Linked DNA regions of Homo sapiens. The protein of the gene in region 1 binds, or shares a complex with, the protein of each later gene. Each region holds a gene or a part of one and is shown on either strand. Other genes may lie near its edges. The genes, in order: DYDC1, NME5, DNAJB13 and LRRC23.

Evidence for each region.
Region 2: DYDC1 (region 1) and NME5 share a complex: the UniProt entries of both Homo sapiens proteins name them as parts of the axonemal radial spoke complex.
Region 3: DYDC1 (region 1) and DNAJB13 share a complex: the UniProt entries of both Homo sapiens proteins name them as parts of the axonemal radial spoke complex.
Region 4: DYDC1 (region 1) and LRRC23 share a complex: the UniProt entries of both Homo sapiens proteins name them as parts of the axonemal radial spoke complex.

Annotation. Positions count from the first base shown.
Region 1 is NC_000010.11:80,334,952-80,340,776, reverse strand, and holds the end of DYDC1 (DPY30 domain-containing protein 1), read left to right. Parts: intron 1-1,623; coding exon 1,624-1,680; intron 1,681-2,205; coding exon 2,206-2,310; coding exon of another isoform or gene 2,311-2,361; exon of another isoform or gene 2,362-4,591; coding exon 4,592-4,621; 3' UTR 4,622-4,672; downstream 4,673-5,825. UniProt on the Homo sapiens protein: Functions as part of axonemal radial spoke complexes that play an important part in the motility of sperm and cilia. Plays a crucial role during acrosome biogenesis.
Region 2 is NC_000005.10:138,114,540-138,123,213, reverse strand, and holds the end of NME5 (nucleoside diphosphate kinase homolog 5), read left to right. Parts: intron 1-4,277; coding exon 4,278-4,396; intron 4,397-6,611; coding exon of another isoform or gene 6,612-6,893; exon of another isoform or gene 6,894-7,449; coding exon 7,450-7,533; 3' UTR 7,534-8,039; downstream 8,040-8,674. UniProt on the Homo sapiens protein: Functions as part of axonemal radial spoke complexes that play an important part in the motility of sperm and cilia. Does not seem to have nucleoside diphosphate kinase (NDPK) activity.
Region 3 is NC_000011.10:73,960,090-73,968,763, forward strand, and holds part of DNAJB13 (dnaJ homolog subfamily B member 13), read left to right. Parts: intron 1-1,418; coding exon of another isoform or gene 1,419-1,639; exon of another isoform or gene 1,640-1,774; intron 1,775-4,788; coding exon 4,789-4,946; intron 4,947-4,955; exon of another isoform or gene 4,956-5,247; coding exon of another isoform or gene 5,248-5,316; intron 5,317-6,048; coding exon 6,049-6,162; intron 6,163-7,849; coding exon of another isoform or gene 7,850-7,882; exon of another isoform or gene 7,883-8,255; coding exon 8,256-8,369; intron 8,370-8,674. UniProt on the Homo sapiens protein: Functions as part of axonemal radial spoke complexes that play an important part in the motility of sperm and cilia.
Region 4 is NC_000012.12:6,906,963-6,915,544, reverse strand, and holds the end of LRRC23 (leucine-rich repeat-containing protein 23), read right to left. Parts: intron 8,231-8,582; coding exon 8,100-8,230; intron 5,656-8,099; coding exon 5,519-5,655; intron 2,816-5,518; coding exon 2,542-2,815; 3' UTR 2,518-2,541; intron 1,655-2,517; coding exon of another isoform or gene 1,474-1,654; 3' UTR 1,316-1,473; downstream 1-1,315. UniProt on the Homo sapiens protein: Essential for sperm motility and male fertility. Plays an important role in the proper assembly of the third radial spoke (RS3) head and the bridge structure between RS2 and RS3 in the sperm flagella.

The DNA.
Region 1 (5,825 bases):
ACATATTGTATGCTTGTATCAAAATATCACATGTACATCGTAAATATGTACAGCTATTTATATCAGTAAAAATTAAAAATTAAAGAAATTTTGAAAAAGATTCACGGATCTAAACTGAAAGAGAAAATACAGGAACATATCAAGAAGGCAGTGATCAAAATAAAGGAATTTAAAGTATTTTTAATCAAAGTGACCTGATAGCTACATTAAAGTGCTTCAAAGTCCATAGGAAGGATTGGTCTCTATTTTATGGCTCCAGAGAGCCACACTCATGTTATTTTACTATCTCCAGACATCATCAGCTTGTGTGACCACTGCCAGAATAACTTTAGTAATTCCTATTTCTATAGGCTTATCATCCCTCACCATAGCATAGGTAGTCCCCTGCAAAGTACCACTCCCTCGCCCATTGCTCAGAGATGAGTCCACTCATGTGCTTTCCCTTGGCCTTCTTATGGCTGCAGACTCGCAATGTAAACTATCATGTGCAAAGGGAAGTTTGCTAGAAGGATTCTGGGTTGAAGGAAGGGTTTAACACATAAACTGTGAAGGACTCTGGTATCACTGGGCCTTTCAGACTTTGGGAGCAAGAGAATCAGATGCTACCAGGGCTCTCCCCTCTGCTGCTCCCTGGTTATTAGTTTCGCTCTTTCACTATGGGCTGCTTTGCTGCACATGGGTAGGGAACATGGGCCTTAACGGCTTCTGAGGCTTAGAATGTTGTGGCTTCTACCATCTAAGAGGAATGGATGCCTTGTTTTAGTTTCAGTTAAGAAAAGAATCTTGGAGAAGGATTCTGACTGGCTTAGTTTGTGTCAAATATCCATCTCTGTGGCAGGGGAGCATAGTCCTATAAGAATATGGATGTTCCCCATATAGCCTTGTGGATGCTGGATAAGAAGTTACCAGGAAAATGGAGTGGTCTTGGGAAAACAGTGCTGTTTATGTCCCTATCATTAGGGTGACCATATGTATGATCAAGAAATCACTGGTCTTCTAGCAGCCAAAACGAATCAGCTCAGGGTCAGTTAGGCCACCCTGCTGCTTTAGAATGAAAAGGTAGATGGCATAGCAAGGTTTGGCTGACTAGAAGAATGTTTCACATTCAGAAAGAGGCCTCCCTTATTGGGCAGTATATTCCTACTGCAGTGCTCAGAGTATTAAAGAGGGCATTGCTCAGGTCCTGTGGGAGGACTTGTGCATTGGGCCAGATTAGTTCCTGTAGAAGTGTTTACTTCTTTCTCGGTATGTGCAAAACTCTACTTAAGTGTGGTTTTCTCCTTAAAAATCTCTTGTTCTAAGGTTCTATTATAATTTTTATTTTGTCACTTTTTATATTGGCAGATAATTTGGCTTCAGTTTGACTGTTTCAGTCCATTTCATTTTTAAAAAACTTTTATTTAATTATATATAAAACATGGTTGCCTTCTATTAGTATAGAGTATTAAATAAGACTGTGATCTGCAGTTTTGTAATGTGTAATCAGATCATTCTCTTTCAGAGTGACAGCATTTTTGCTTTAAATTCATCATAGCATTGTGTAAAAGTAAAAATGCCAAAAATTAAACATGAAATCAAAATGGAGTATATTCAAAGTATTTTCTTAATTTTTATATATTATAGGAGATGAGAATGAATATGGAAAATCTAGTTAGGAATGAAGATATTCTACATTCAGAGGTGAGAAGAAAAAGTCATTCTATGTTATGTGAAATGAATTGAGTATCCTAGAATGTAAAGCTTAATTTTGATGCATAAGTAGCTAAATTTTTAGCAAGTATATTATCAAAACTGATAGTCCATGTATATTTTCCGGTGATAACAAGTCACAAATAATGTGCTTTGAAGCAAAATCTCACAATAGGTAAAAATTGGACATTCAGTTTGTGTTTGGATTTTTAAAAACTAGGCTCTCTTGAGATATTGAAGCTATTTACCACATAATTACTTACAATTATTTTAAATTTCTGCAGGTATTTTTAAAAAAAGTTCTAGTATTTATTACCAGAATTGTAGCTTTGCATTCTAGGATACTCAATTCATTACCAGAATTCTCTTGTCATTAACAGAAATTGGTTAATTCCACTAATTAATAATGTTGAATTTTAATGTTATAAATCAGAAAATTTTTAATCAAAATTGAAAGAAAAGTAATGTATTAATTTTGAAATCATTTAAAAGTAAAAATCAATTTTTTGATTGTAGGAAGCAACACTAGACTCAGGCAAAACACTAGCTGAAATCAGCGATCGTTATGGAGCACCTAACTTGAGCAGAGTGGAAGAACTTGATGAACCAATGTTTTCTGATGTCAGTATCAGTGTGTTTTGTGAAAAAACTCGTTTTTGTTTTTGTTTTTGATTTTTTTTACTTAGGTAAAGCCTAGGGAAAATGAGGCTAGGCCAGGATTGGTTGGCAAATAGGCCTTTTGCTTCAGAGAAAGAAAATCAGTTCCCTGGTTGCGGATTATATTCCTAATTGGCATTCTGCCCTTTTGTGAAGTGTGTCACTGGCTTATCTATATCTCCGTATCTGTGACTTCAAAACCTCTTCAAAATATGTTTTAAAATCATTTTGTGAAATATATAATCTTTAAATTTGGTGTGGGGGGCACGATTTTTGTTCTCAGTAGCAAACCCTGGAACCAAATTAATGCCTTAATGAGAATGCATGCTTCTCCAGTATGTAAGTACATTTGTTTATTTAAGAAACATGCCACATCTTCCATATGCCAGGCACTGTGCCTGATGCTGTGGTGAATAAGGCAGATGGCTTTGACCTTATGGAGTTTATTGTCAGGGGAGAAACAGACAATTAGATGAACATTTAATAGTCATGGTTAGTGGGACCACATAATTTATTGTCCAAACCAGTATGCTTTTGAGAATGAGAGCCGGATCAGCAGATGTAAGCCAGGACTGTCCTGGAAGAAGGGTACATTTTGGTCACTTTAATTGGTGTACACGGACAAGGGGGGACAGCCAGCACAGTTGAGGAACCTCAGTCAGGGAAGGAAGCTAATGATTTGCTACTCACTGGTGGCATGGGAGGCTGAGGATAGTGCTCCAGGCAGAGAGCATGGAAGGTGTGAAGACCCAGATAGGAGAGCGTGTAGAGGGAGTGAGGCAGGGAGGGGTGAGAGCTGAGGCCAGGGAGAAAGCAGGGGCCAGACCATGAAAGCACTTGTCATTTCTGTTCAGAGGCTTAGATTTTATCCTGAAGGCAGTGGAGACTCATATGATGAGAGCTACATTTTGCAAAGACCATCTGGTAACAGTGTGGGGAAGAAAATGGAGAAGTAGGTGTCAGGAGATGGCTTAGGAGGTAGTAATCTAGGGGACAAGATGTCGATGGCCTGAAGTAAATGTTGTTTTCAAGAGCTGTTCAGAAAATGGAGCTGCACAGACTCAGTGCTAATTGTTTAAAGTTTTATTAAAGGTCAGCTATGATTTGGCACTATGCAGGGAGCTAGAAAATGCCAATGAACAAAATGGATTGGGCTTCTGCCCTTGGGGGCCGTGGGCCAATGGGGAAGCTTCTTTGAGGGACAGAGTAGGGAGAGACCTGACCTGGGCTGGACAAGTCTTCCTCAGGAGGTGAAGTTCAAGGAATTAGCCTGAGATGAGCCCAGAGGAAAGAGACAGCAAAATGCTTTCAAGGGACTGAAGTCATCCAGTATTAATGGCTAACGTCCATGGAGCTAGGAAAATGGTGTGATTTTAAGCTGGAGAGGTGGATAAAGGCAGAGCACACTGGGTCTTGTATGTTGCCTTAGGGATTTTGGACTTAAGTGCAGTAGGAGTTATTGAAAGGACTTAAAGATTCAATCTGTGTTTTTATAAGGTGGAGAGAGGATTGGTGTGGAGCAGGAGTGGAAAAAGGGAGACCACTTAGGAAGTTATTGCACTGATCCAGATGTAAGATGACTAGGGTTAGACAGCAGAGATGGAGGGAACTGAGTGGATTTAAGATTGGCTTACAGGATCAGTGCGGGGCAGGGTCAGGATGAAGCCTAAATGTCTTCCTTGGGCTACTGAGTTAAGAGTGTTAACATTTGATGAGTTGATGAACATAAGAGGAAGCAGGTTTTTAAAAAATGATGGCTTCAGTTGCAGAGATGTTGACTCTCAGGTGGCTCTGAGATATGCAGGTGAAAACAGCCAAGAACAGTTGATGTTAGGAAGGGGCCCAGGCCGGAGATATAAATTCAGCAGTCATGGGCATATGTGCTGAATGAAGCAAGGGGATTGAGTAAGGTACCTAGGAGAGAGTGCAGTGTGTGAAGGCCTGGGGGCTCAGGGAGGAACCATTAGCAATTCTAACATTGAAGGGATGGCCACAGGAAGAGGAGCCTACAAGAAGGATGAGAATGCATAGTAAGAGAAGTAGAAGAAAGGATGGAACAATAACTACTTTGAGAACATAATTTATGGTTATATTCAATTTGAGTATCATTTGAAATCATCTGAAACTCCCAAAAAGTTTCATTCATGTAGTCACATAGAAGTTACCTAAAGTTTATTTCTTTGGCTTGTGCCTTTTCACAGTTCTAATTGTATTAAGGAATATTTACTTTTTGTTTTGCTTTTAGATTGCATTAAACATTGATCAAGATTTGTAGGACCAACCAACCTAAGAGCAATAAATGTTTTTGTTTGTTTCAAATTTCAAACCATGAGGTTCCCAATTTGTATTTTTTTCCTTCAAACTTGAACTCCCCTTTTTTTTTCCTCTAAGGACTGCTTATGAATGGGCTTCAAGAGTAGCCTCAAATTATTATTTTGGATCCTTCAGTTCAACTGGTTATTTATACATTTCCATTGGGAAAATAGGAGAGTTTGCTGAAGCAACCAAAAGAGGCAAATGGGAGGTGAGCTGAACTAATATGTGCGTCTATGCAAGAGCAAGACTGCCTGAGAGGACAGTTGCTGGCTGGGTGCAGTGGCTCACACCTGTAATCCAGCGATTTGGGAGGCCAAGGCAGGTGGATCACTTGAGGTCAGGAGTTTGAGACCAGTGTGGCCAACATGGTGAAACCCCGTCTCTACTAAAAATACAAAAGAAAATTAGCCGGGCGTGGTGGTGGGCATCTGTAATCCCAGCTACTTAGGAGGCTGAGGCAGGAGAATCACTGGAACCCAGGAAGCAGAGGTTGCAGTGAGCCAAGATCATACCACTGCACTGCAGCCTGGGTGACAAGAGTGAGACTCCGTCTCAAGAAAAAAAAAAGAAAAAAAGAAAAGAAAGTTGCTGGTCCGTGAGAAGTGAGTGAGGTGGCCATTGTGTAGGGCTCAGGAGGGTGTGCAACATGCTCTAGATGTGGTGTCTCCTCCTGGGTGTGAACTGCAGAGCTCTCCCCAGTTTGCTGGGAGCTGATGCTTCATAGAACCACTTAAGCCACACTTATATGATGGTGTTTAAGGGGGAAGAAGTGTTTCATCACTGTCCTGGTGGGGGAGTTTCCTCCAGCTTAGCTTGTTCCTCCACAGCCAGGAACAGATATGAGGACTTTCCCTTCCTCACCTTTCTGCCCAGCTGGGCGTCCGGATTCCTGTCTTCCTCTTTGGGGTTTATAAAGTCTAGGGATATTGCAGGATGTGTTCACATAGAGTGAATTGAATGGGATGAAACAAAGTTCTGGGGTGCAAAGAAGTATCATGTCTTCTGGCTCAATCAGTGGGCTCAAATATTGGGGCAACTGTTGGTGAGAAGATCTGACTGAATACAGGCCACACACTCCTGGCCCCTTTGAAGTTTCAGTTCTATCCTTAGACTCTGCAGAGAACCTTACTTCCTTTACAAAATTCTTCCAAATCTGTGATGTG
Region 2 (8,674 bases), on another chromosome or scaffold:
TATTAATTAGCTTGATTTGTCTTTCCATAGTGTTTACATATTTCAAAACAACATGTACACAATAAATGTATACAATATTTCTTATCTATTAAAAAATTTGTTGTGCTCACTTCAGCACATATGCTAAAATTGGAACGATACAGAGAAGATTAGCTTGGCCCCTATGCAAGGATGACATGCTTTTAAAATAAAAAGAAATTTTAAGTACACTTATAAGTTAAAAAAAATTTGGGGGACCAGGGGTGGTGGCTCATGCCTGTAATCCCAGCACTTTGGGAGCCTGACATGGGCAGATCACTTGAGGTCAGGAGTTCGAGACCAGACTAGCCAACATAGTGAAACCCCATCTCTGCTAAAAATAAAAAAAAATTAGCCTGGCATAGTGGCATGCATCTGTAATCCCAGCTACTCAGGAGGCTGAGGCAGGAGAATTGCTTGAACCCAGGAGGCAGAGGTTGCAGTGAACCGAGATCGCACCACTGCACTCCAGCCTGGGCAACAGAGCAAGACCATGTCTCAAAAAAAAAAAAAAATTAAAAAAATTTTTGTTTAATGATTAGTACCTGATAAATTGGCATAATGAACTTTATATAATATATGAATAAAACATTTGCCCATATTGAGAAAAAATTGTATACATTAATTGTGTGCAATTTTGTGTACATGAGTAATACTTCAATAAAGCTGTAAAAAGGAAAATTCCATTCACAATGACATTAAAAATAATATAATATTTAGGCACAATTTTTTTTTTTTTTTTTTTTTTTTTTTTAGAGACAGAGTTTCGCTCTTGTCACCCAGGCTGGAGTGCAGTGGCCCGATCTCAACTCACTGCAACCTCTGCCTCCTGGGTTCAAGCGATTCTCCTGCTTCAGCCTCCCGAGTAGCTGGGATTACAGGCGCCCACCACCACGCCCAGCTAATTTTTTGTATTTTTAGTAGAGACAGGGTTTCGCCACGTTGGGCAGGCTGGTCTCAAACTCCTGACTTCAGGTGATCCACCCGCCTTGGCCTCCCAAAGTGCTGGGATTACAGGTGTGAGCCACCACGCCCGGCCATATTTAAGCATAAATTTAATGAAAGTGCAATTCTTGTACACTGAAAAACAAAGAACATTGCTGAGATAAATTTTAAAATAAATAATAGATATTCCATATTAATGGATTGGAAGACTCAATATTGTTAAGATGGCAATTCTTTCTAAATTAATTAACAGTTTTGGGTTGGGTGCAGTGGCTCATTCCTGTAATCTCAACACTTTGGGAGGCTGAGGCAGAAGGATTGCTTCAGTCTAGGAGTAGGAGACCAGCCTGGGCAACAAAGTGAGACCTCATCTCTACAAGAAAAAAAAAATTTAAAGAAAATTTTAATGTAATCCTTTTAAAAGTCCATGCATACTTTTACGTAGACATTGACAAGCTGAGTTTAAAATTTAGCAAAATTGCAAATAATTCAATTTTAGAAAAGAAGAACAAAGTTGGAAGACTTCCACTATCTGATTTTGAAACTTACTGCAAAGCCACAATTATAAGACGGTATGACAGTGATATAAAGATACACATATAGATTATTGGAACAGAATTGAGGATCTAGAAGTAAACTTTTACACTTATGGTCAATTCACTTTCAACAAAGGTGCCTAGACAATTCAGTGAGAAAAGGATGGTCTTGCCAATACAGTCCCCAACTTACCATGGTTCAAGTTACAGTTTTTTGACTTTACTATGGTGCTTTCAGCTGTGTACATTAATGGCGAGTATCCATACAACCATTCTATTTTGGTTTCCTTTTTTTTTGAGACAGGGTGTCTCTCTGTCACCCAGGCTGAAGTGCAGTGGTGCCCACTACAGCCTGACCTCCTGGGCTCAAGCATTCTCCCACCTTAGCCTCCTGAGTAGCTGAGACTAGAGGCATAGACCACCATGCCTGGCTACTTTTTGAATTTTTTTGTTGTAGAAAGGCAGTCTCGCCATATTGCCCAGGCTGGTATTGAACTCCTGGCCTCAAGAGATCCTCCCCCAAAAATGATATATATATATATCTTTTTTTTTTAAGAGACAGAGTCTTGCTTTGTTGCCCAGATGGTCTCAAACTCATGGCTTCAGGTAATCCTACTGCCTCAGCCTCTCAAGGAGCTAGGACTACAAGTGTGAACCACTGTGCCCAGCTCATAATATATGTATATTATATAGAAAATGTTATTTATATAAAATTTGCTTTGTGTTAGATGATTTTGCCCAACTGTAGGCTAATGTAAGTGTTCTGAGCACATTTAAAGTAGGCTATGCTATGCTATGATGTTCAATAGGCTAGGTGTATTAAATGTGTTTTTGACTTACTGATACTTTCAACTTATGATGGGTTTATTGGGATGTAACCCATGTAAATTGAGGAAAGTCTGTATATGGTGCTAGGACAGCATGATAGTCACATAAAAACAAAAAGAACTTAGACCCTTGTTTCATAGCATACACAAAAATTAACTCAAAATGGATCACAGACTTCAATGTAAAAACATCTAAAAGAAAACAAGAAAATCTTTGTAACTGGAGTTGGACAAAGACTTCTTAAAATGACATCAAAAGCAAGATCCATAAAAGAAAATATTGATAAATTGGACTAAATCAAATTAAAAGCTTTTGTGCTTCAAAGGACATCATTAAGAATGTGAAAAGAGGCTGGGCGCGGTGGCTCATGCCTGTAATCCCAGCACTTTGGGAGGCCGAGGCAGGCGGCTCACAAGGTCAGGATATCAAGACCATCCTGGCTAACATGGTGAAACCCCGTCTCTACTAAAAAATACAAAAAAATTAGCCGGACTAATTAGTGGCGGGCACCTGTAGTCCCAGCTACTCAGAAGGCTGAGGCAGGAGAATGGCGTGAACCCAGGAGGCGGAGCTTGCAGTGAGCCAAGATCGCGGCACTGCACTCCAGCCTGGCGACAGAGAAAGACTCTGTCTCAAAAAAAAAAAAAAAAAAAAAAGAGCTGGGAGCAGTGGTTTGCACCTGTAAATCCAGCTATTCAGGAGGCTGAGGTGGGAGGATTGCTTGAGGCCAGGAGTTTGAGACCAGCGTGAGTGACACCCTGTCTCTAAACACTTAAAGAAAAAAAAAGCTGGGTGTGGTGGCACACACTTGCAGGCCCAGCTACTTGGAAGGCTGAAGCCAGAGGATGCTTCAGCCCAGGAGTTCGAGGCTGCAGTGAGCTGTGCTCACACCACCACACTCCAGACTGGGCAACGGAGCAAGACCCTGTGTCAAAAAAAAAAATAGAAGTTAAATTTTTAAAAATATGAAAAGATAGGTAGGCAACAGACTGGGAAAAAATATCACCAAATAATATAAAGAACTTGTAACTAGAATATATAAAGAACTCCTATGTCTAAATAATAAGAGAAACATCCCAACTGAAAACTGAGGCTGGTTCTACTCAGGAGGCTGAGGCAGGAGAATTGCTTCAACCTGGGAGACGGGGTTGCAGTGAACTGAGATTGTGCTGCTGCACTCCAGCCTGGGTGACAAGAGTGAAACTCTGTCTCAAAAAAAAAAAAATAAAGAAAAGAAAAGAAAAAGAAAACAGGCTGGTTGCAGTGGCTCATGCCTGTAATCTCAGCACTTTGGCAGGCTGAGGCAGGCAGATTATTTGACGTTAGGAGTTCAAGACCAGCCTGGCCAACATGGTGAAACCCCATCTCTACTAAAAATACAGAAATTAGGGCCGAGCATGGTGGCTCATGCCCGCAATCCTAGCACTTTGGGAGGCCGAGACAGGAGGATTACCTTAGATCAGGAGTTTGAGACCAGCCTGGCCGACATGGTGAAACCCTGCCTCTACTCAACGTACAAAAATTAGCCAGGCATGGTGGCACACTCCTGTCTACTTAGGAGGCTGAGGCAGGAGAATCACTTGAACTCAGGAGTTGGAGGTTGCAGTGAGCTGAGATTGTGCCACTGCATTCCAGCCTGGGCAACAAAGCGAGACTCTGTCTCAAAAAATAAAAATAAATAAAAATACAAAAATTAGCAGGGTGTGGTGATGCGGACCTGTAGTCCCAGCTACTCGGAAGGCTGAGGTGGGAGAATCACATGAACCCAGGAGGAGGTTGCAGTGATCTGAGATTGCATCATTGCACTCCAGCCCAGGCAACAGAGTAAGACTCCATCTCAAAAAAACATATAAAAAAATAGAGAAAAGTTCTTTAAAAAGAACCTTTTTAATGATTGTATAGTATTTAATCATTATGTTTGCATCAATGAGAATACATTTGTATTTGCAGTGATTGTTGAGCCCATTCCAATTGGACAAGCTGCTAAGGACTATTTAAATTTACATATAATGCCAACTCTGCTTGAAGGACTCACAGAGCTTTGTAAGCAAAAACCAGCAGATCCTTTGGTAAGAAATATTTTTATTCACACTTAAGAATATTGTCACCAGGCGTGGTGGCTCATGCCTGTAATCCCAGCACTTTGGGAGGCCAAGGCGGGCGGATCCGAGGTCAGGAGTTTGAGACCAGCCTGACTAACATGGTGAAACCCCGTCTGTACTAAAAATACAAAAATTAGCTGGGCGTGGTGGCATGTGCCTGTAATCCCAGCTACTCAGGAGGCTGAGGCAGGAGAATCACTTGAACCCAGAGGCAGAGGTTGCAGTGAGCCGAGATTGTGCCACTGCACTCCAGCCTGGGTGACAGAGCAAGACTCCATCTCAAAAAAAAAATTTTTTTTTCTATAAATTGTCTGTAGTTTTCACGTTTAAGACATTGTGTCTTTGAAATACTGCGAATATAGCTGGGCGCAGTGGCTCACGCCTATTATCCCAGCACTTTGGGAGGCCGAGGTGGGTGGATCACTAGGTCAGGAGATCAAGACCATCCTGGCTAACACGGTGAAACCCCATCTCTACTAAAAATATAAAAAATTAGCCGGGCGTGGTGGTGGGTGCCTGTAGTCCCAGCTACTTGGGAGGCTGAGGCAGGAGAATGGCGTGAACCCAGGAGGCGGAGCTTGCAGTGAGCCGAGATTGTGCCACTGCACTCCAGCCTGGGCAACAGAGCGAGACTCCATCTCAAAAAATAAATAAGTAAATAAATGAAATACTGCAAATATTGAGAACCTTTTTAAAATAAACATTTCTAGAAGGTATTTCATATACATGTTAGATATGTATAATTATTGATTACTTATTATTTTCTTGCTGTGTTTTATTTATTTATTATTATTATTTTTTGAGACGGAGTCTCACTCTGTTGCCCAGGCTGGAATGCAGAGGCGCAATCTGGGCTCACTGCAACCTCCGCCCCCCAGGTTCAAGTGATTCTCCTGCCTCAGCCTCCTGAGTAGCTGGGATTTACAGGCGAACACCACCACGCCCGGGTAATTTTTGTATTTTTAGTAGAGACAGGGTTTCTTCATGTTGGCCAGGCTGGTCTCGAACTCCTGACCTCAGGTGATCCACCTGCCTTGGCCTCCCAAAGTGCTGGGATTGCAGGTGTGAGCCACCGCGCCCGACCTATCTTTCTTTTTTTTTGTAGCCATGCTAGTAGATAACACAAAATGGTTTCTCACGGTGGTTTTGATCTGCATTTCCCTAATGGCTAATGTTGAACATCTTTTCATGAGCTTCTTGGCCATTTGTATACCTTCTTTGAAGAAATGTCTATTCAAATTGAAGTCCTTTGCCCATTTTTAAACTGGGTTGTCTTTTTGTTGAGTTAAAGTTCTTTGTATTTCTAGATGTTAAACCCTTATTAGATATATGATTTGCAAATATTGTCTTCCATTTTGTAGGTTGTCTTTTCACTTTCTTGATAATGTCCTTTAATGTATAAACATTTTTCATTTGATGAAATCCAATTTATTTATTTTTTCTTTTATTTCTTGTGCTTTTGATGTCATGTCTAAGAATCCATTGTGAAATCCAAATCCAAGGTCATGAAAATTTACCCCTGTGTTTTATGTTTTCTTTTAAGATTTTTTTTCTTTCCTTTTTTTTTTTTTTTTTTTTTTGAGACAGGGTCTTTGTTCCCCATGCTGGAGTCTGGTGGCGCCATCTCGGCTCACTTCAACCTCTGCCTCCTGAGTTCAAGTGATTCTTGTGCACCAGGCTGCCAAGTAGCTGGGACCACAGGAGCACACTACCACACCCAGCTAATTTTTAAAATTTTTTGTAGAGATGGGGTCTCCCTATGTTGCCCAGGCTGGTCTTGAACTCCTGGTCTCAAGTGATCTTCCTACCTCGGCCTCCAAAAGTATTGGGATCACAGGTGTGAGTCACTGGCCTCTTTTAAGATGTTTATTGTTTAAGCTCTTATATTTAGGTCATTGGTCCATTGTGAGTTCATTTTTGTATATGGTGTGGTATAGGGGTCCAACTTTATTCATTTGCATGTGGAAATCCAATTGTCCTAGTACCATCTGTTGAAGAGACTGTTCTTTCTCCAAGTCCAGTGGTACCAATGGGCTTGGTACCATTGTCAAAAATTTGTTGACCATAGATGCGTGGGTTTATTCCTGGATTCTCATTCTTTTTTTAAAATATGAAATGCTTAATAAATTGTGCATCATCCTTGCACAGGAGCCATGCTAATAATCTCTCTGTATCATTCCAGTTTTGGTATATGTGCTGCCGAAGAGAGCACTGGACTCTCAGGTCCATTCTATTGGTCTGCATGTCTGGCATAAGGATGTCATTACCACACTGTGCTGACTACTGTAGCTTTGTAGAAGGTTTTGAAATTGAGAGTACAAATCAGTCCTCCAACTTTGTTCTTTTTCATGATTGTTTTGGCTCCTCAGAGCCCCTTGCAATTTCATATGAATTTGAGGATTGGCTTTCCATTTCTGCAAAAAAACTTGTTGGACATTTGGCAAGAGCTGCACTGAATCTGTAGATTGCTTTGGGAAGTATTGACATCTTAACAATATCAAATCTCCGTATCCATGAAAAATAATGTCTTCTCATTTATTTAGGTATTCTTTAATTTCTTTCAGCAATGTTCTACAGTTCTTAATGTATAAGCCTTTCGCTTCTTGGGTTAAATTTATCCCTTGGCATTTTATTTGTCTTTATGCTACTGTAAATGAAAGTGATTTAAAATTTTTTTTTGGACTGTCATTGCTGATGTATAGAAATACAGTTGATTTTTGTGTATTGTAACCTACATCTTCGCTGAATTTATTAGCTGTAGTGGCTTCCTTGTAAATTCCTTAGGGTTTTCCACATGTAGGTTTATGCCATCTGTGAAAAGAGATAGTTTTACTTCTTTCTTGCCAGTTTGGATCTATTCTTGACAATCTTGCATAATGTAAATCCAAATGTTTCCATTTTTAATGGTCATTTTCTTAAAGTGATTTTGAAAACTGTTTAAGTTTCCAATTGATATAGTATATATTGAAAGGAAATATGTAACTGTTTCTTAACTTAGGTTGTTTTTTTTTTTCCCATAGATTTGGCTAGCTGATTGGCTGCTGAAAAATAATCCTAACAAACCCAAACTTTGTCACCATCCAATTGTAGAAGAACCTTATTAAAAAAAAAATCCTCGAAAGAACAAATCATGAACTATCTTATTATAAAAGGCTGTACTTCTACTGTTTGAAAAAATTATTTCTAGGGTTTAAGTAACTACAAGTAAAATAAATTTATTTCTTAAAAATAAGTGTTAAAGGAATAACTATTCTATGAAGCAGATAACATTAAGGTAAAATATAGGCTTAGAGTATGATTTTAACAATGATGTAACACTAGGTAATGGAAAACTCATGTAAGATGTTGCTAGATGTTTTTGTTTTTCTTAAGTTTGAGAAGTAAGACATAAAGTTTAGTTATACATTTTCCCAAGCACATATCCTATATCTAAATACATAATTAATGCACAGTTGAGACAGTCTAGTTTAAAAGGCTTAGGTCCTTTTGTAGTCCATAAGCATGGTGATTTGGTTTCATGCTCATGTGTCAGATATGCTTCCCTCAAACCTTGTTACAGCATCATCACATTACCTGTTTGATGTAAAAAATAAAAAATAGAAAGGTGTAAGTATATAAGTAATTTTTTGGTACAATGAAAATGGCCAGAACCAGGGGATGATCTTAAACTAATCACTTGGATAACTATTAGGCTGGTGCAAAAGCAATTATGGTTTTTGTCATTAAAAAACAATGGCAAAAACCACAATCACGGCCGGTCTTGGTGGCTCACGCCTCTAATCCCAGCACTTTGGGAGGCCGAGGCGGGTGGATCACGAGGTCAGGAGATCGAGACCATCCTGGCTAACACGGTGAAACCCCGTCTCTACTAAATATACAAACAATTAGCCGGGCGTAGTGGCGGCGCCTGTATTCCCAGCTACTCGGGAGGCTGAGGCAGGAGAATGGCGTGAACCCAGGGGGCGGAGCTTGCAGTGAGCCGAGATCGCACCACTGCCCTCCAGCCTGGGTGACAGAGCGAGACTCTGTCTCAAAAAAAAAAAAAAAAAAAAAGAGAAAAGAAAGTATAATGTAAGAAAATGTGAAAACAGAAAGATTGTTAGCTGAAAAAAAGTATGTTACAAAGCAATATGCACAGTGTACGCCCATTTGGTTTTGGTTTGGTTTTGGTTTTTTTTGTTTGTTTTAATAAGATAGGGTCCCGCTATGTTGCCCAGGCTGGTCTCAAACTCCTGGGCTCAAGCA
Region 3 (8,674 bases), on another chromosome or scaffold:
TATAAAACACATTGCAAAAGAAAAAGTAAAACAGAATTCATTGAAAAAGAAATACATTCCAGCCCTCCATTTTCTTTTTCTTTCTTTCTTTTTTATTTTTATTTTTTAGATGGAGTCCTGTTCTGTCACCCAGGCTGGAGTGCAGTGGCATGATCTCTGCTCACTGCAACCTCCGCCTCCGGGGTTCAAGCAGTTCTCCCTGCCTCAGCCTCCTGAGTAGCTGGGATTACAGGCACCCACCACCACACCCAGCTAATAATTTTATATTTTTTAGTAGAGACGTGGTTTCACCATGTCTGCCAGGCTGGTCTTGAACTCCTGACCTCAGCTGATCTGCCCACCTCTGCCTCCCAAAGTGCTGGGATTACAGGTGTGAGTCACCACGCCCAGCTAATTTTTGTATTTTTCATAGAGTAGAGACAGGGTTTCGCCATGTTGGCCAGGCTGGTCTTGAACTCCTGACCTCAGGTGATCTGCCCACCTCGGCCTCCCAAAGTGCTGGGATTACAGGCATGAGCCACCGTGTCTGGCCGAGCCCTCCATTTTCTTCCTCAGAAGCAGCTACTAGGGAAGCAGCTATTAGTAAACAGTTTATGTATCCTTCCAGAAACTTGCCATGCTTGTATGAGCTGTATTTATTTTTACAGAAGCCTTTTATTAAGGAAATAGGGCCAAATTTTACACAATGATTTTTTTTTTCACTTAATATATCTTGGAGATTATCTTATATGTTATACTATATATAGATCTACTTTATTCACTTACATGCAAATCTATATACTATGTACAGATCTGCATAAGATTTCATTGTACAGATGTCTATTAGGGATCCATTGCAGAAGCAAATACTGTTTTAGCCACGTGAAGCAGAAAGGGGTTCAAAACAGGGAATTAGGTGCTTTAAAAAATCACCGAGGCCAGGTGTGGTGGCTCACTCCTATAATCCCAGCACTTTGGGAGGCTGAGGTGGCTGGATTGCTTGAGTGTAGGAATTCGGTGCCAACCTGGGCAACATAGCCAAACCCCATCTCTACAAAAAAATGTGCCAGGAATGGTGGTGTGTATCTGTAGTTCCAGCTACTCAGGAGGCTGAGGTGGGAGAATCGCCTGAGCCCAGGAGGTTGAGGCTGCAGTGAGCCAAGATCGGGCCACTGCACTCCAGCCTGGGTGACAGATTGAGACCTTGTCTCAAAAAAATAAAATACATAAATAAAGAAATAATCATTGAAAGGCCTGGGTGAGAAGGCTGTAAGCTGGCCCTGTAGGAAATCTTCCAAGAACACCACCTCTAAACTGGCCCACAAGGAGAGCTGCTGTCTCTGCCACAGTCACAAAGAAGGAATCAGGAAATGTCACCGTTGCATTCCAGAGCACACCATGAATGTAGCTGCAACTGCTGCCTCACTTGCCTCTGACAGGCATGAAACTCGTGGGTGGACCCACAAAGGCTGCTGCAGAAAAACCTAGTGTCTCCACAACAGTGCCCACCAGCTCCAGACAGAGCCACGGAGAGATGCCTGCCGCCTTCTTCCTGCCTCCCAAGCAGCTCAGGAACTACCTGATGAACAGAATTCAAAGCCAGAACCTTAGCTGCAAGAGAGTCTGGGGGATGTTCCTTTTGGCTCTACAGATTCTCTAGCAGGGAAGGTATGCAAGAAGGAGGACAGAGCAGATGCCAAGTGCCAGCATGGCTACCATGGATGTTTTATAATTTATTATTATTAAAGTCTTGCTCTGTTGCCCAGGCTGGAGTGCAGTGGCACAATCTTGGCTCACTGCAACCTCTGCCTCCTGGGTTCAAGCGATTCTCCTGCCTCAGCCACCCGAGTAGCTGGGATTACAGGTGGGCACCAGAATGCCTGGCTAATTTTTGTATTTTGAGTAGAGATGGGGTTTCCACTCAAGACTGGCCAGGCTGGTTTTGAACTCCTGACCTCAGGTGATCCGCCTGCGTCATCCTCCCAAAGTGCTGGGATTATAGGCATGAGCCACCATGCCAGGTCTAATTTATTATTTTTAATTACTGTCTTATTGATGGGTAGTTTCTTCCCAGTCTTTTGCTAATATTGTATTTGTGGGAAGATACCTCTTGTCTCTTTTGCAGTTAAAACAGTTCTTGTGCTATTTATAGTTTCCCTAATATGCTTGTCTCCCTACCAGACTGGGAGATCCTCCAGGTCTGATTGATCTCAGCGTAGCCAAATCCCAGCCTAGCATCTGACAAGAGTGAGTGTGGATGGGTGGATGCATGAAATGAAGGAAGGACAGATGGATGAATGGATGAGTGGGTGTATGAATGAATAGACGAGCACATGGTGGGTGGGTGGGTGGGTAGGCGGACGGATGGCTGGGTAAATGAATGGATGGCTGGGTAGGCGGATGGATGGCTGGGTAGGCGGAAGGATGGCTGAGTAGGTGGATGGGTGCGTGATTCCAGGTCTGAGACAAACTGACCAAGAGTTGATTTCTGAGGCTCAGAATCATCTTGCAAAGGCAGTGAAAAGACCTTCACACCTGACTTCCTGGCTCCAGTTATACCCACATAAGGCCTAGATTTTTCACTGCCTGTTTTCTCCTACACCTCTTGCCCCTTCTCCCTGACTATACTTCAGCCTTTCTGAACTTCATAAGTTCTTTCCTTCTCTTTTCTGTGCCAATATGTGGGTTACAGCCCCTCTGCCTCAGAGATTGCTCCCACCTTGTGCCACCCTCACGTGTCTGCCAGAAGAAGCTGAGTTTATAAGCTCCACGTGAGACTGAAAACAGCAAGGGGCTTCGAGTAGCGGGCCTGTTTCCAATCCATGCGCTGCCATTTGTGAACCGTGTGATCCTGGGAAAATTTCTTCACCCCTCTGAAACCCCAGCTTCCTAACCATTACATAGCCAAAATAATCATTAAGGCTCAAGGGCTATTATCAGATGAGATAATGTTTATGAAAAGGGGCTTTGCAATCGGCCGGGCATGGTGGCTCACACCTGTAATCCCAGCACTTCAGGAGGCTGAGGCCGGCGGATCACTTGAGGTCGGCAGTTCAAGACCAGCCTGACCACCATGGAGAAAACCCATCTCTACTAAAAACAAACAAACAAACAAAAACAAAAAAACAAAGCCAGGCACAGTGGTGCATGCCTGCAATCCCAGCCACTTAGGAGGCTGAGGTAGGAGAATCGCTTGAACCGAGGAGGTGGAGGTTGTGGTGAGCCGAGATTGCGCCATTGCACTCCAGCCTGGGCAACAAGATTGAGACTCTGTCTCAAAAAAAAAAAAGAAAAAAGAAAAAAAATGAAAGGGGCTTTGCAGTCCAAAAATGCCATACAGTGGACCTTGCCTCCCTACCTGTCTCAGTTCAAAGGAGCCAAGTGAGTCTACAGGGCATCGCTCATTGGGAAAGGTCAGGCTCAGGGTCTGGGCTTCCTCAGGCAGTGCCCAGAAGCTATACTGCCATAGTGCTCCACCCCAAGGGTTCCTGAGTCCCATCTCCCTGCAGGGTTGAGGGGCTGGGCTTCCTGTGGACTGGCTATTGGGGTGTTTACTGCCTGGTACACTGTAGGTCTGGGTGAACAAGTGAATTCAGCAATGCAACAGGAGGACCAGAAGATTCAGGCCTCTTGATTGCCCATCGCATCTTAGAGGGACATAGTGTAGTCACCTCACCATCCCTGCCTAAGGTCATTTCACCATTCTAGCCTGTGAAGTTCATTCCATGGCATTAACCATGAGAGGCAGAATATGAAAACTCTTAACCATAGCGCCCCTCGAGTTTACAGCTTATGAGGGGCTTCCACATCTAGCGATGCGGCGTGGCACAGTGGTTAAGGACACAGGTTCCGTAGTCATATTGTCCTGTGGTTCAGATCCCAACTCTACTGCTTACTAGCTACGGGACCTTAAGCGTTTTGTTTGGGCTCCCTGGACCAATGAAATAATAATGTAAGGTTCCAAAAATAGCACCTGACGCATAGTAAGCTCTCAGCAAGTTTTAGCTCTTCATCTTAATGGTGGAAGGCAGGTCAGGCATTATTACCCCATCCCACAGACCAAGACACTGAAGCCCACGGATCACACAGCACATCAGGGGCAGAGCCAGGATGGGGCTGTCTTTGCACTGGGAGGAAGGATGGGGGCAGCAAGAGGGGTTATGGGTGCAGAGCTGGGCAGGGGCAAAAGAAATTGAGGAAAGAGGAGTTTGGGGAATGCCGGTGGCCTCTCAAATTGTTAGGGACCAACCCTTTCCCTCCCCCATCTCAGCTGACAGCTTTATAGAAACTTGAGTCTGGGGTCTTTAGCAATCTTGGGCTGGGCTGGACAGCGAAGGGTTATGGAGTCTGGGGAAGAGTAGAGAGGACTGGCAGGCTCTCACCTTCCTGCCGAGGACTACCAGCAGTCTCTTCTGGCACTCCTGAGCGCGGCCACCAGAGGGAGTGCCTCCCTTTCCTGAGACAGCCAGAGTTACGGTATCCGAGTTGTGAATAAGAGAGACGGGGAAGCGTTGGGCGGGGTGGGGGGGGAATGTCCCAAGGGGAGGTGAAGCAGTGGGAAATGGCAAAGGATGATAATCACTGCATCTGCAGTTGAAGACAGCTCCTTGGCTTGGCCAGTCTGAGAGGTGGTTATAGGATGCTGGGTGTTACACAGGACACTGAAGAGGTTGGGGAGCATATCTGGATAGGGAGGCTGTGTGTGTGTGTGTGTGTGTGTGTGTGTGTGTGTGTGTGTGTGTGTGCGCGCGCGCGCATGTCTGGGTCTCTGGATACAATTTCTCTTACTCCTCTCCCTACCTCCTGCAGAGTTTTTTGATGCAGAAGGAAGTGAGGTAGATTTGAACTTTGGGGGGCTCCAGGGCCGAGGGGTCAAGAAGCAGGACCCCCAAGTCGAACGGGATCTCTACCTGTCCCTGGAGGACTTATTCTTTGGCTGCACCAAAAAAATTAAGATCTCCAGAAGGGTGAGTACTCAGCTTGCTCCTCCCGGGAGCCACCTATCTCCTGCAGCCTAGCAGCTGCCTCCTCCCTTACCTGGGTGGGAGGACTCAGGGATGGTCTCTGATGGAATTATGGAACCTTAGATTCAGAGACCTAGGATGTTAGAATTCCGGAATCTGAAATTCGGAAGGGACAGTTGAAGACATTAGCCCGGTTCTTTCCTAGTGCAGGAGTGCCCTCTGCAGCCTTCCCAACTGGGACAGGCTCTTTCCCTTCCTTTCTTTCAGTTCAGCCCCATCCCCGTGGGAACTGGAAAGGCTCTGAATGGGAGGAGTCTCTTCTGAATTCTTCCTTCTGGGCTTTACCAGACCATATTCCCAGGATTTCATCAGGGTGCATGCCTCGTGCATAAGAAAGAACAGTGGGCATGGAGGGTGGGCTGGGAGATAGTCCCCAAGGTGACGGGTTGAGGAAGACCCTCAGTGCCTCATGTCTAGTCCTTGGCTTGGCCCTGTCCCATGGCCCAGCCCTGTGCCAGGCATAAGAGCAAGCCCCCTCCACCTTTGCCCAGCAGAGGAGATGCCGATGCGGCCATGCTTTCCACAGATGGAACCCATCTGGACATGCGACTGGGGAGTGGAAGGATCCCCAGTGGGGAATGCACTGGGGGAGGCTTAGATATGTTGACTTTCATTTCTCTCTTTGGGATTAAGAGACTTGCTGGAGGCTCAGGGCCGGGCCTCTGGGATTTGGAGAGAGGAATGGAGTACATTTTCACCATGTATCTGTTAGTGGCCAGGGCTGGAGCTGTGTGTTTGATCAACTAATGGTGACTGCTTGGCATCTCAGCCCCCAGCCCCAGTCTCATGGCATCCTCTGCCATACTGGAATCATAAGTTCTTGGTTGTCATGGCAACAGGATGGGAGTGGGAGTGGCTCAGGGCAGGCTCTCCCCATTGCTGGAGGCTCTTCCCATTGCTAGAGGATTGAGCCCAAGTACAAATCCCATAGAGCATCTTTCACGTGTGCAAAGGTCACCTGAGTGTTCATGAAAATCTGAGCAAATCTCGACTGTACTCATGGAAGTCCTAAGCAGACCTCCCCACACCTGATATGTTGCTATAGGTGCTGAACGAGGATGGGTACTCCTCCACCATCAAGGACAAGATCCTGACCATTGATGTGAAGCCCGGTTGGAGGCAGGGCACACGCATCACCTTTGAGAAGGAAGGGGACCAGGTGAGGGGGGAAGAAGCTGACTCAGGTCAGTCACTGAGCTCAGGCGGTGGGAAGACTGAGGAGGAAAGGAAGGGAAAGGAGGCAATACTTTTTCCTGCCCCTGTGAGCCTTGGTCTGTAGAGAGCCCAGTCTGCAGAGTGGGTGAGATGGGATCCCTAATGTTCCTTCCAAGGAACAGAGCCTTAGCCTTACAGTGCTTCTGTGAACAGGCAGCCCAGGGACTGTCCCCATTTTACAGAGTGGGAAATGGGGGCCCAGAGAAGAAAGGGACTTGCCCAGGGCAAGAACATGGGAGCTGAAAGGAGATCCCAGTCTGAACTCCAGTGTTTTCCTGATTTTCTTCAGTGCTTCTCAGAATAAAGCCCAATTACAGGAGCTACTCAGAAACCATTTAATCATAATAATTTTATTTATTTATGTATTTATTTATTTATTTATTTTTATTTTGAGATGGAGTCTCACTGTCGCCCAGGCTGGAGTGAGGTGGCATGATTTCAGCTCATTGCAGCCTCCACCTCCTGGATTCAAGCAATTATCCTGCCCCAGCCTCCTGAGTAGCTGGGACTACAGGCATGTGCCACCACGCCCAGCTAATTTTTTTTTTTTTTTTTTTTTTTTTGAGACAGAGTCTCGCTCTGTTACCCAGGCTGGAAGGCAGTGGTGCGATCTCAGCTCACTGCAAACTCCGCCTCCCGGGTTCAAGTTATTCTGCTGCCTCAGCTTCCCCAGTAGCTGGGATTGCAGGCATGCACCACCACACCCGACTAATTTTTGTATTTTTAGTAGAGACGGGGTTTCACCATGTTGGCCAGGCTGGTCTTGAACTCCTGACCTCAGGTGATCCACCTGTCTCGGCCTCCCAAAGTGCTGGGATTACAGGCGTGAGCCACTGCGCCCAGCCACCCAGCTAATTTTTGTATTTTTATAGAGATAGGGTTTCTCCGTGTTGGCCAGACTGGCCTCGAAATCCTGACCTCAGGTGATACGCCTGCCTCGGCCTCCCAAAGTGCCTGGGATTAAAGGTGTGAGCCACCGTGCCTGGCCTATTAATAATAATTTTAAATTAAATACTATTTAAATAAAAACATAAATTTATTGTCCAAGGCGTGCTGAATCCTTAAGTCCTGAGAAGAGGCATTCAGAGCCAGGGAAGACACATTCCTTTGCCTGCACTTTTTGCCCCCTTTCTCACCTATGAAACATCTACCTCCGGTCTGGCCTGGTGGCTCACACTTATAGCCTCAGCACTTTGGGAGGCCAAGGCAGGAGAATCACTTGAGCTCAGAAGTTTGAGACCAGTCTGGGCAACATAGCGAGACCTTGTCTCTACTAAAAATAAAAAATTTAGCTGGGCATGGTAGTGTGTGCCTGTGGTCCCAGATACTCAGGAGACTGAGGCAGGAGGATCTTTTGAGCCGAGGAGGTCAAGGCTGCAGTGAAGTATGATCATGCCACTGCACTTCAGCCTGGGCAACAGAGCGAGATCCTGTCTAAAAACAAAACAAACAGACAAAATACAAATAAAACATCTACTTCGAATAAACACGCTTCAAAACCCAGCTCCAGTGTTCCCCGCTCTGGGCAGCCTCCTCTGAGCCCCAGCCTCTGGGCCTCCCTTTATCATGTCTTGAGCGTGCTGAGGATTCACTGTCAGTGTTAGGGGCCAGTCTGATTCCTCTGTCCCCAGCGCCCAGAAGAGACCTCAGCAGAGTTTTGGTGACTTAATGAAGTTTGGGACAGGGGTGTCATGCCTGGAGTTACTAGCAAGACAGAGACATACGGGCAGTTGCCTGACGCCCAGCTTAGTGTTCCACCTGCCTGCCGTCTGAGGAAGCCTCTCCGCCCCTCCAGCTGAGTGTGTCTATTTTGGGCATGCTCAGTACAGAAGTAATTCTGGGGGGATTCATTTGGGTAAGCTTCTCGGGCTTCTAATCCATCTGGGCTATGGGGGCCAAACTGAAAAGGCCCTTCCAGAAAACCTGCTCTCATCTCCCCATTGTACAGATGAAGACATGGAGACAAGTAGAGGCAGGAACTTGGCCAAGGTCACACGGCCAACTAGTCCTTGTCACCTTTTGGCGTCCCCTGCCCAGGGCCCCAACATCATCCCAGCAGACATCATTTTCATCGTAAAGGAGAAGCTACACCCTCGCTTCCGCAGGGAGAATGACAACCTCTTCTTCGTGAACCCCATCCCTCTTGGCAAGGTGAGTGGGCAAAGTGCAGGAGCAGCGGGGAGGAGATCAGAGTGAGCCCTGCCTGCCCCGGCCTAGACTTGGCCTCCCCTCCCACAACCACCTGCCATCAGTCACTAAGCCCTGTGGATTCCACCCTCTAAATCACCATCCACTTGGTCCCGTCTGCTCATCTGCACCGCCTGGATCTGTACACCAGATCTGCGCAGCAGGCCTTCCTCCCCACTTCTCATCTCCTCCAGGCTCTTCTCCTTAGGGATCCTGCCACACACTCATCAGACCCTGCCACACTCCTGTCTAAACATCTTTGTGCCACT
Region 4 (8,582 bases), on another chromosome or scaffold:
GGAGGGGAGGGGCACGACAGTGGTTCCCGCGCCTCTTTGCAGCTTGGCCAGCCGGTGGGGTTCCCCCAGATCTCCTCAGAGCGGAATGGCTGCCAGGCTTGCATTTCTCCTGGGAGCCAAGAAGAGGATGGGCTGCCTGGGCCTCTCTTCCAGAGCCCCCATACCTCCCCAACTTAACACCCCAGCTGCCTGAACACTGCCCCTTCCCCAAGGTCCCACTCTCTCCCAAACGTGTATCCCTCCTCTTCCCGCGAAAGGCGCATGCAATACAGGTGTCGGGGAAGAGGGTCCTGAGAAAGGCCCTGCAGTCCCTGGGGGTTGCAGCGGGAAGTGAAGAGGATAAGAGCCGGTGGGGAGTGGAGGCGAGCTGGGCCTGTCCTCCCCTCTGCGCCTCGACAGATCCCCACTTCTTCCATCTCTCCCCCGTGCAGCAGAGGGGAGGAAGCGCGAACGGAGAGGGGCGCCGTGGGGAAGAGCAGGAGAGAGGGGAGTCCAAGGGAAGTCTGGGGGAGGTGAGGAACGGTGAGAGAAGACATTTCCCCAAATGCAAACCAAAAGGGACGCTCTAGGATAAAAATGCACCGCCCGGAGAGGCTCCCAACTTAGAAACAAATAGAACCGTAGATGAGGGCGAGCACCGGGAGAGAGGCAGGCAAGGGTGGAGAGGCGCAGTTAGAGATAGGCGCGCAGAGGGCCAGAAAGCGAAGGCAGCGGGCGGGGAAGGCCAGGGAGGGAAGGCGCCCTGGGCGCGGGCGGCGGAGCAGGTGCGCAGCTGCACCGGGCCAGAGATGCGGAGAGGTGCGCAGCGGCACCGGGTAAAGGAGGCAGGGGCGCCGCGGCGAAGGGAGGGGGCCACAGGGGCTCTGGGCCTGGCGGGGGCTTCACCTCGGGACTGCAGACTCAGACGGTGGTAGTGGCGGTGGCGGTGGCGGTGGCGACGGCGGCGCTGAGAGAGCGGGAGTGGCAGTGGCGGCGGCGGCTGCGGCTCCCGGGCGGCGGGCGGAGGAGGCGCCTATAGGGCCGCGCGGGCGCATGTGACCCGGAGCCCCCGATGAGTCAGGAGCTGCCGGCGGAGGCGCACGTACGAGCGCGGGTGGGGGACCGACGAGGGTGGAGTGGGGAAGGGAGGAGGATGGGGGAAGGGTGGGGGCACCCACGACCTGGCCCCAGCGCACACAAGCGCTCATACCCACGGCCCGACCCACTCGACAGTAACAGGCAGAGCCGCACCCCTGTAGCCCGGGTACGAAGGCCCACACTGCCAGTGAAGCCCAAGACAGCCTCAATGTCTCACAAACCCGGTCAGACACAGGAGCATCACTCTGTTTCTTTATTGGAAATCCGAACACCCCAGCCGCCTTCGCAAGTCTCTCCAACCACTCCTACCAGCACCCCGCGGCCCACGCGGTCTTGGCTCTCACCCACGCCTGCCCGAGGGCGGCCCCCGGCCTAGGCTCCAGGCAACGCTCAGGCCTAGGCACCCCATTCTGCACCCCACACTGCCCAGAGGACCGGCACAGAGCAGATCCTGGGCCTCAGGTTGTGATGAATTTCCAGCTTTGGGGCAAAAACAGGCATCCTCTGTTCTCTGTCATACATGTGGTGGCTGCCCCTGGGAGTCTGATCAGGTCTGAAGGCCAGCGTCTTTGATCTCCTGGAGGTAGAAGACAGAAGTAAATAGGGACCAGGCGCTGTGGCTCACCCCTGTAATCCCAGCACTTTGGAAGGCGGAGGCGGGCAGATCACGAGGTCAGGAGATCCAGACCATCCTGGCTAACGTGGTGAAACCCCGTTTCTACTAAAAATACAAAAATTAGCCAGGCGCGGTTGCATGCGCCTGTAGTCCCAGCTACTCGGGAGGCTGAGGCAGGAGAATTGCTTGAACCCAGGAGGTGGAAGTTGCAGTGAGCTGAGATTGTGCCACTGCACTCCAGCCTGGAGACTAAGCAAGACTACCTCGCAAAAAAAAAAAAAAAAAAAAAAAAAAAACAAACAGAGGTAAATAAAGCCTCTCCCCTATCTAAAGTGCCTGGCGGCCACCCTCATCTCTTCAGTCTCTTTTTGCCTCACTCTGCCCTCTTTTCTTCCCCCATCTCTGTGTCCTGTTTTTAGCTTCAGATTTTTTGTGCTGGATCTTCCTCTCCTGCTTCTCTCCTAGGTCCAGCTGCATACACCACCAACTTTCCCCTGCAGCCCCTACCATGCACCCACACCTGTCCTTTCCTAGCCGACTTCACTCTGTGTCAGGTATGGCTGCCCCACCCCCCACCAACTCCTCTGCCTGCCACCCCAATTCTTTTCACTTACTCTTCTGGCCTCCTAAGTCTTTCTCAGCTGGTCCCAGGCCCCTTGGGTCCCTTTTCCTCTCCCTGACTCCTAACCCTCCTCTCTTTAAGGGTCCTGCTTGTCTGATGCTTTCCTCTCCCACCTCCTTCTGCAGCAGCTTCCCCTCTTGCCTCTTCCCCTACCTGCCCAGCCCTTGGCCTCCTCCCACTGCCTCCCTGCAGGCTTCCTTACTATCTTTAGAGGCTAGAACTGCTGCTAGATCAATGACTGTTCGGGTTCCAGGTCACGCTGGGGCTCAGGCTCCTGCTCCTTTTCTTCCTTCAGCCTCTGTCGAATCACATCAGCCTCAGCCCGTTCCTCCTCCTCATAGAATTCCTTGTCCAGGCGTTCAAGGTATGGCATCTGCACCAGGGCCTCCTGGCGGTAGCTGGTTTCGTCCGTGCATGGGTTATCAAGCAGCACCAACGCTCGCAGCTTGGGCAGGTCTCGAAGCTTGGCCAGCTCCCCCAGGTTGGCCACCATGTTGCCCCTGCCAGTGTGGTCAGGAGGGGTTCATGCAGGAATAATGGGCTTTGGTTGCCAGTTGCTAGGAATGGGGCCTCTGGGGGACTCTCGGGGTTCCAGTGTCCCTAGAAACACTGTGAGGACTGGCCTGCCAAGCCTTGCCAGATTTACTGCAGAGGTGCTGTGTGACCCCGCTCTGGTCCTGCTTCTGCCCTTCAAGGAATCCCTAAGTGCCATATTCTACTCTGTAATACATTCATGTGTTCTTTTGGTGCAGCAAAGCTAGGCCACAACCCTGTCTTGTAGCTGGGGAGGAGAGGGCAAATTTTCCTCACAGGGAGAGACATTTTCTGTGATCACACCTAAATGGAGGGTAGAAGGTAGGACCCAGCCTGGGCAACATAGCGAGACCCCATCTGTACAAAAGCTAAAAATAAAAAAATTAGCTGGGCGTGATGGCATACACCTGTAGTCCTTGCTACTTAGCTGAGGAGGAGGGATTGCTTGACCCCAGGAGTTTGAGATTACAGTGAGCCGAGATCGAGCCACTGCACTCCACCCTGTAGGACCTAGGTCAGTGGACAAGGAACTGGGATCTAAGCTGGAGTTTAGGGTGGTGGATGCTCGGTTCGTGCTCTCCACAAAGAGAACCTAAGGCTATGGATGGGTTGGAGCCTCCCAACCTGAAGAATAAACTTCATCTCCTAATGTGCCTCATTATATGATACTCTGTTTTTATTTTATTTTTATTGAGACAGGGTCTCACTATGTCACCCCGGTTGGGGGTGCAGTGGCATGATCATAGCTCACTGCAGCCTTGAATTCCTGGGCTCAAGTGATCCTCTCACCTTAGCTTCCTAAGTACCTCCAGGCATGTGCCACCACACCTGGCTAATGTTTAAATTTTTTGTAGAGACTGGGTCTCACTATGTTGCCCAGGTTTGTCTTGAACGCCTGGCCTCAAGCAGTCCTCTTGCCTTGGCCCCCCCAAAGTGCTGGGATTACAGGCGTGAGCCACCATGCCTGGAATTTTATTTATTTTCATGTTCTGGCTTTAAGCTTTTATGAAATCTATTTAAGTGTTTCAGCCTGATCTCATGGTCGTGCTGAGCCTCATGCAGTGTTTCTCACCAGGAGGGCTACAGGAACTTTGTACTGGACTCTGCCATACATTGTTGGATGCTTAGCATCTCTGGCCCCAGAGGCACCTGCCAATCATTGAGACACCCTCACCCCCCTCCACACACACACCCGACTTACTCTCAAAACATCCCCATTTAATAGCCACTCAGGAAGGGTCCATCATGCCTGTCTAGATCATTAACAGGAAGATGGCACAGATACACACCCCACCAGATCCGTGTGGCAGAGTTCATGAATAAGAGAATGCCCAGGGGGTCAGGATGAGAGTTGGGGCTTCCAGATGCAACCACCTCTCCCTACTTGGAGATGCTCTTTCCATTACCAGCTCAAGAATCTGGTCTTGTTGACTAAGGAAAGAGGCAGTTTCCTTACATGTTTGCTGAAATAAACACACATAAAGTCCTCCATCCGACAAGAGTTGCTGATCTTCAGTGCCTTTCTACCAAAAGATTTTCTTACAAATGTCCTTCTCTCCTCAAATCTGAGCACATCTTGTGTTTTTTTAATCAGTAAAAAGGTCATCCCTTACAGGTGGGGCTCAGGAGAAGAGAGGCAGGAAATGGGAAGGTGAATTGGGACCGAGGAAATGGAGAAGGGCAGTGGAAACTTATATAGGATAGGGTGAGGAAAAAAGAGTTGGAGCCAGACTGTGAGCCCCTTAGGAACAGGAATCACCTCTGATTCCTTTCTTTCTTTTAGAGACAGCTCACTCTGTCACCCAGGCTGGAGTGCAGTGGCACAATCATGGCTCACTGCAACCTTGAACTCCTGGGCTCAAGTGATCCTCCAACCTCAGCCTCCTGAGTAGCTGAAACCACAGGTGTGCACCACCAGGCTCAGTTAATTTTTATTTTTAATTTAATATTTTAATTTTTATTTAATATTTTATTTTTGTTTTGTTTTTGAGGCAGGGTCTGGCTCTGTCACCCAGGCTGGAGTGCAGCGGCTTTATCTCAGCTCACTGCAAACTCCACCTCGAGGCTCCAGCGATCCTCCCGCCTAAGTCTCCTGAGTAGCTGGGATTACAGGTGCCTGTCACCATGCCTGGCTAATTTTTGTATTTTTGGTAGAGATGGGATTTTGCCATGTTGCCCAGACTGGTCTTGAACTCCTAGGCTCCAACGATCTGCCCACTTCGGCTTCCCAAAGTGCTAGAACTACAGGTGTGAGCCACCATGCCGGGCCATTATTTTCACTTCTGTAGAAACATGGTCTCACTAGGTTGCCCAGGCTGGTCCTGAACTCCTGGCCTCAAGTGATCCTTCCTCCTAAAGTGCTGGGAGTACAGGCATGAACCACCATGCCCAGCCTCTGATTGCTTTAAATGTCCCCAAAACACAGCACAAGGCCTGGCACATAGCACATTCTCAATAATTGTGGATTGAATGAATAAAAATTCAGGGGTCACAAGCTATAAGGGATTTAGTGTTGCAACTCAGTGCAGAAGAAAGGAAGGAAAGCCGGGCTTTCCTTGAGAATCCAGCTGTGGGCTAGGACTGGGGGATTGGGCCAGGGAAGAACACAGACTCAAAAGCTGCACCTGGTCAGGGGTAGGGGCAAGGTGGGGCTTGGAGAGGGTGCATACCTCAGGTTGAGGTACTGCAATGATTTCATTTCTCTGGAGAAGCCACTCAGGGTGTCAATCTGGTTGTCTCGAAGATGCAAGGTGGTGAGATTGCTCAGATCCTCCAAGCCTTCCACCTTCTTCAGCATGTTTTGGGCCTAGACCCCCAGGGCACAGTGGATTGATTGAGAGGGAGCAGGGATAGGGAAGAAAGAGAAGTCAGAATGAGATAAAGCAAAAGAGGAAATCCAAGAGGTAGAGAGGGAGGAGTGGAAGAAAGGAGTGGGGGTGAGTAGAGATCAGTATAGAAAGTAAAGAAGTTCAGGAGAAGCTGCCATCCCAGAGAAAGGTCAGCAGTAACCCTCTACCATTCGCCCCATCAAAGCCACTTGGGATGGAGGAGATGCTTCAACCCACCCCTACCCGGCCCAGGAGCCCCCAGGCCACCACTGAGGATTGGCATCAGCACCATCCCAGAATAACGAAGCTTAAGAGTCTAAAAGACTAAATATTTCAGTGGCTTCCTGTGGAGTTATTATATATATAATATATAATATATTATATAATATATAAAATATATATTATATATTATATATTATATACTATTATATATAATATTTATATATTATATATAATATACTATTATATATAATATTTATATATTATATAAAATATATTATATATAATATACTATTATATATATTTATATATTATATATATTATATATAATATATACTATTATATATATTTATGTATTATATATAATTATATATAATATATTATATATAATTATATATAATATATAATTATATATTATATCTAATTATATATATTATATATAATTATATATTATATATAATATATAATTATATATTATATATTTTATATATAATATATAATATATAATATATAATTATATATTATATATTATATGTAATTATATATTATATATAATATATAATTATATAATATATAATATATATTTATATATAATATATAATTATATAATATATAATATATATATCGGTTTTCATCCACAGTCCCTAGCTTATAACCCCCATAATAGCCCTTCTTGCAGTCTTTTGTTATAAAGTTGGGTGTGCTGGGCCTCAGGGGCAGGTCTCAGGAACTTCTCCAGCCGTCTTTTCACCTGCTCCAAGAGAAAGCGCTAATCTTTCCCCCCACTCCCTCTTTCTGACTGTGATTCTTTCTTTTTTTTTTTTTGAAACAGAGTCTAGCTCTGTTGCCCAGGCTGGAGTGCAGTGGCGCAATCTCGGCTCACTGCAAGCCCCGCCTCCTGGGTTCACGCCATTCTCCTGCCTCAGCCTCCCGAGTAGCTGGGACTACAGGTGCCTGCCACCACACGCAGCTAATTTTTTTTTTTTGTATTTTTAGTAGAGACGGGGTTTCACCGTGTTTTTCTTTGGTTTTTTTTTTTTTTTTTTTTTTTTGAGATGGAGTCTTGCTCTGTCTCCCAGGCTGGATTGCAGTGGCGTGATCTCAGCTCACTGCAAACTCTGCCTTCTGGGTTCAAGCCATTCTGCTGCCTCAGCCTCCCTAGTAGCTGGGATTACAGGCGCATGTCAGCACACTGGGCTAATTTTTGTATTTTTAGTAGAGACAGAGTTTCGCCATGTTGGCCAGGCTGGTTTCGAACTCCGGACCTCAGGTGATCCGCCCGCCTCAGCCTCCCAAAGTGCTGGGATTACAGACATGAGCCACCGCGCCCGGCCTGATTGTGGTTCTTAAGACCCTCCCCAGCGACAGCCTCCCCAGTTTCCTGGGGGAAGGAATACTAAGATCATGAAGCTTCCATGAAAAGCCAAGAGGACTGGGTCCAGAGAGCTTCTGGGTAGCTGAACACGTGAAAGCTTTTGGAGGGTGATGCATCTGGGAAGGGCATGGAGCACTGCACCCATATCCCCATACTTCGCCCTAAGCATCTCTTCATCTGTATCCTTTGCCCTTGCAATAAACTAATAAAAACCACTCTAGAAAATTAATTAAATCCAGAGAAGAGGTCATGGGAACCAGCTTCATGTTGAAGCTGGTGTGTCAGAAGTTCTGGAGGCTTGGACTTGCAACTGGTGTATGTGGGCGGTGTAGGGGTCACTCTTGGGAACCGAGCCCTCAATCTGTGGGATTTGATGCCATCCCCAGGTAGACAGTGAATCGAATTAGAGATCACCCAGCTGGTGTCTACTACTTGGTGTATGGGGAGAAACCCCCACACCTTTGGTCCCGGAAGTCGTATGTTGATGATTGTTGTGGTGGTAGTGTAAGAGCTGAAGAAAAACCCAGTCTGAGAGGAGGGTTTTCCTAAAACATTTCCACAGACTGATGTTTGTACCTCAATTATGGTCCATTTTGCTACTACCTGTATCAAGGTAAATTATCTCTGTATTATCCACACATTATATATTATCAGCCCTGCTAGGTGGCTGTGTATCTCCACAGCATCTGGAACCAACTATGGTCTTGATAATAATACCAGTTATTATCATAATGATGAAGTTAGTAGCTGAGCCTACTAGAAAGCAGGCATCCTGACCCCCAGGACAGTGCCCTCTTCCCTGCACCACCCTCTGACCCAGTGAGCTACCAGGTAGAGGTTCTTCAGCTTAGGAAGATTGATTCCCAGGGTGCTTTCCAGCTGGTTCCCCCGAAGCTCCACTGTGTGCAGGCTGATCAACTTCTCGGGGTCCAGACCTGTCACCATGTGGATGCTGTTCCCTGGGGAGGAGGGTTTCAAGAGCTCAAAGGGCCACTCCAAATGCTCAGCATTAGAGCCTGAATTTGGGGAGCCTCTAAATCATCCTACCATTCGCAAAGCAGGGTAGATACTGAGGAAGGCCAGCTCCAGACTTAATACCTCTGGAGCCCTGAGGCAAGTGGTGTGGTAGGTAGTCCAAGGTCCTGATGGACATATCCACCTAAGCCTTTGAAGAGTGAATGAAGCAGCTGACATGTCTAATTCCCTCTCCTTCTTCAATTCTTTGCTCAAATGTCATCTTCTCAGTGATGGTTGTCCTAACCAATCTATTTGACATTGCCACCTGTGTCCCCCATTCCTCTTACTCTGATC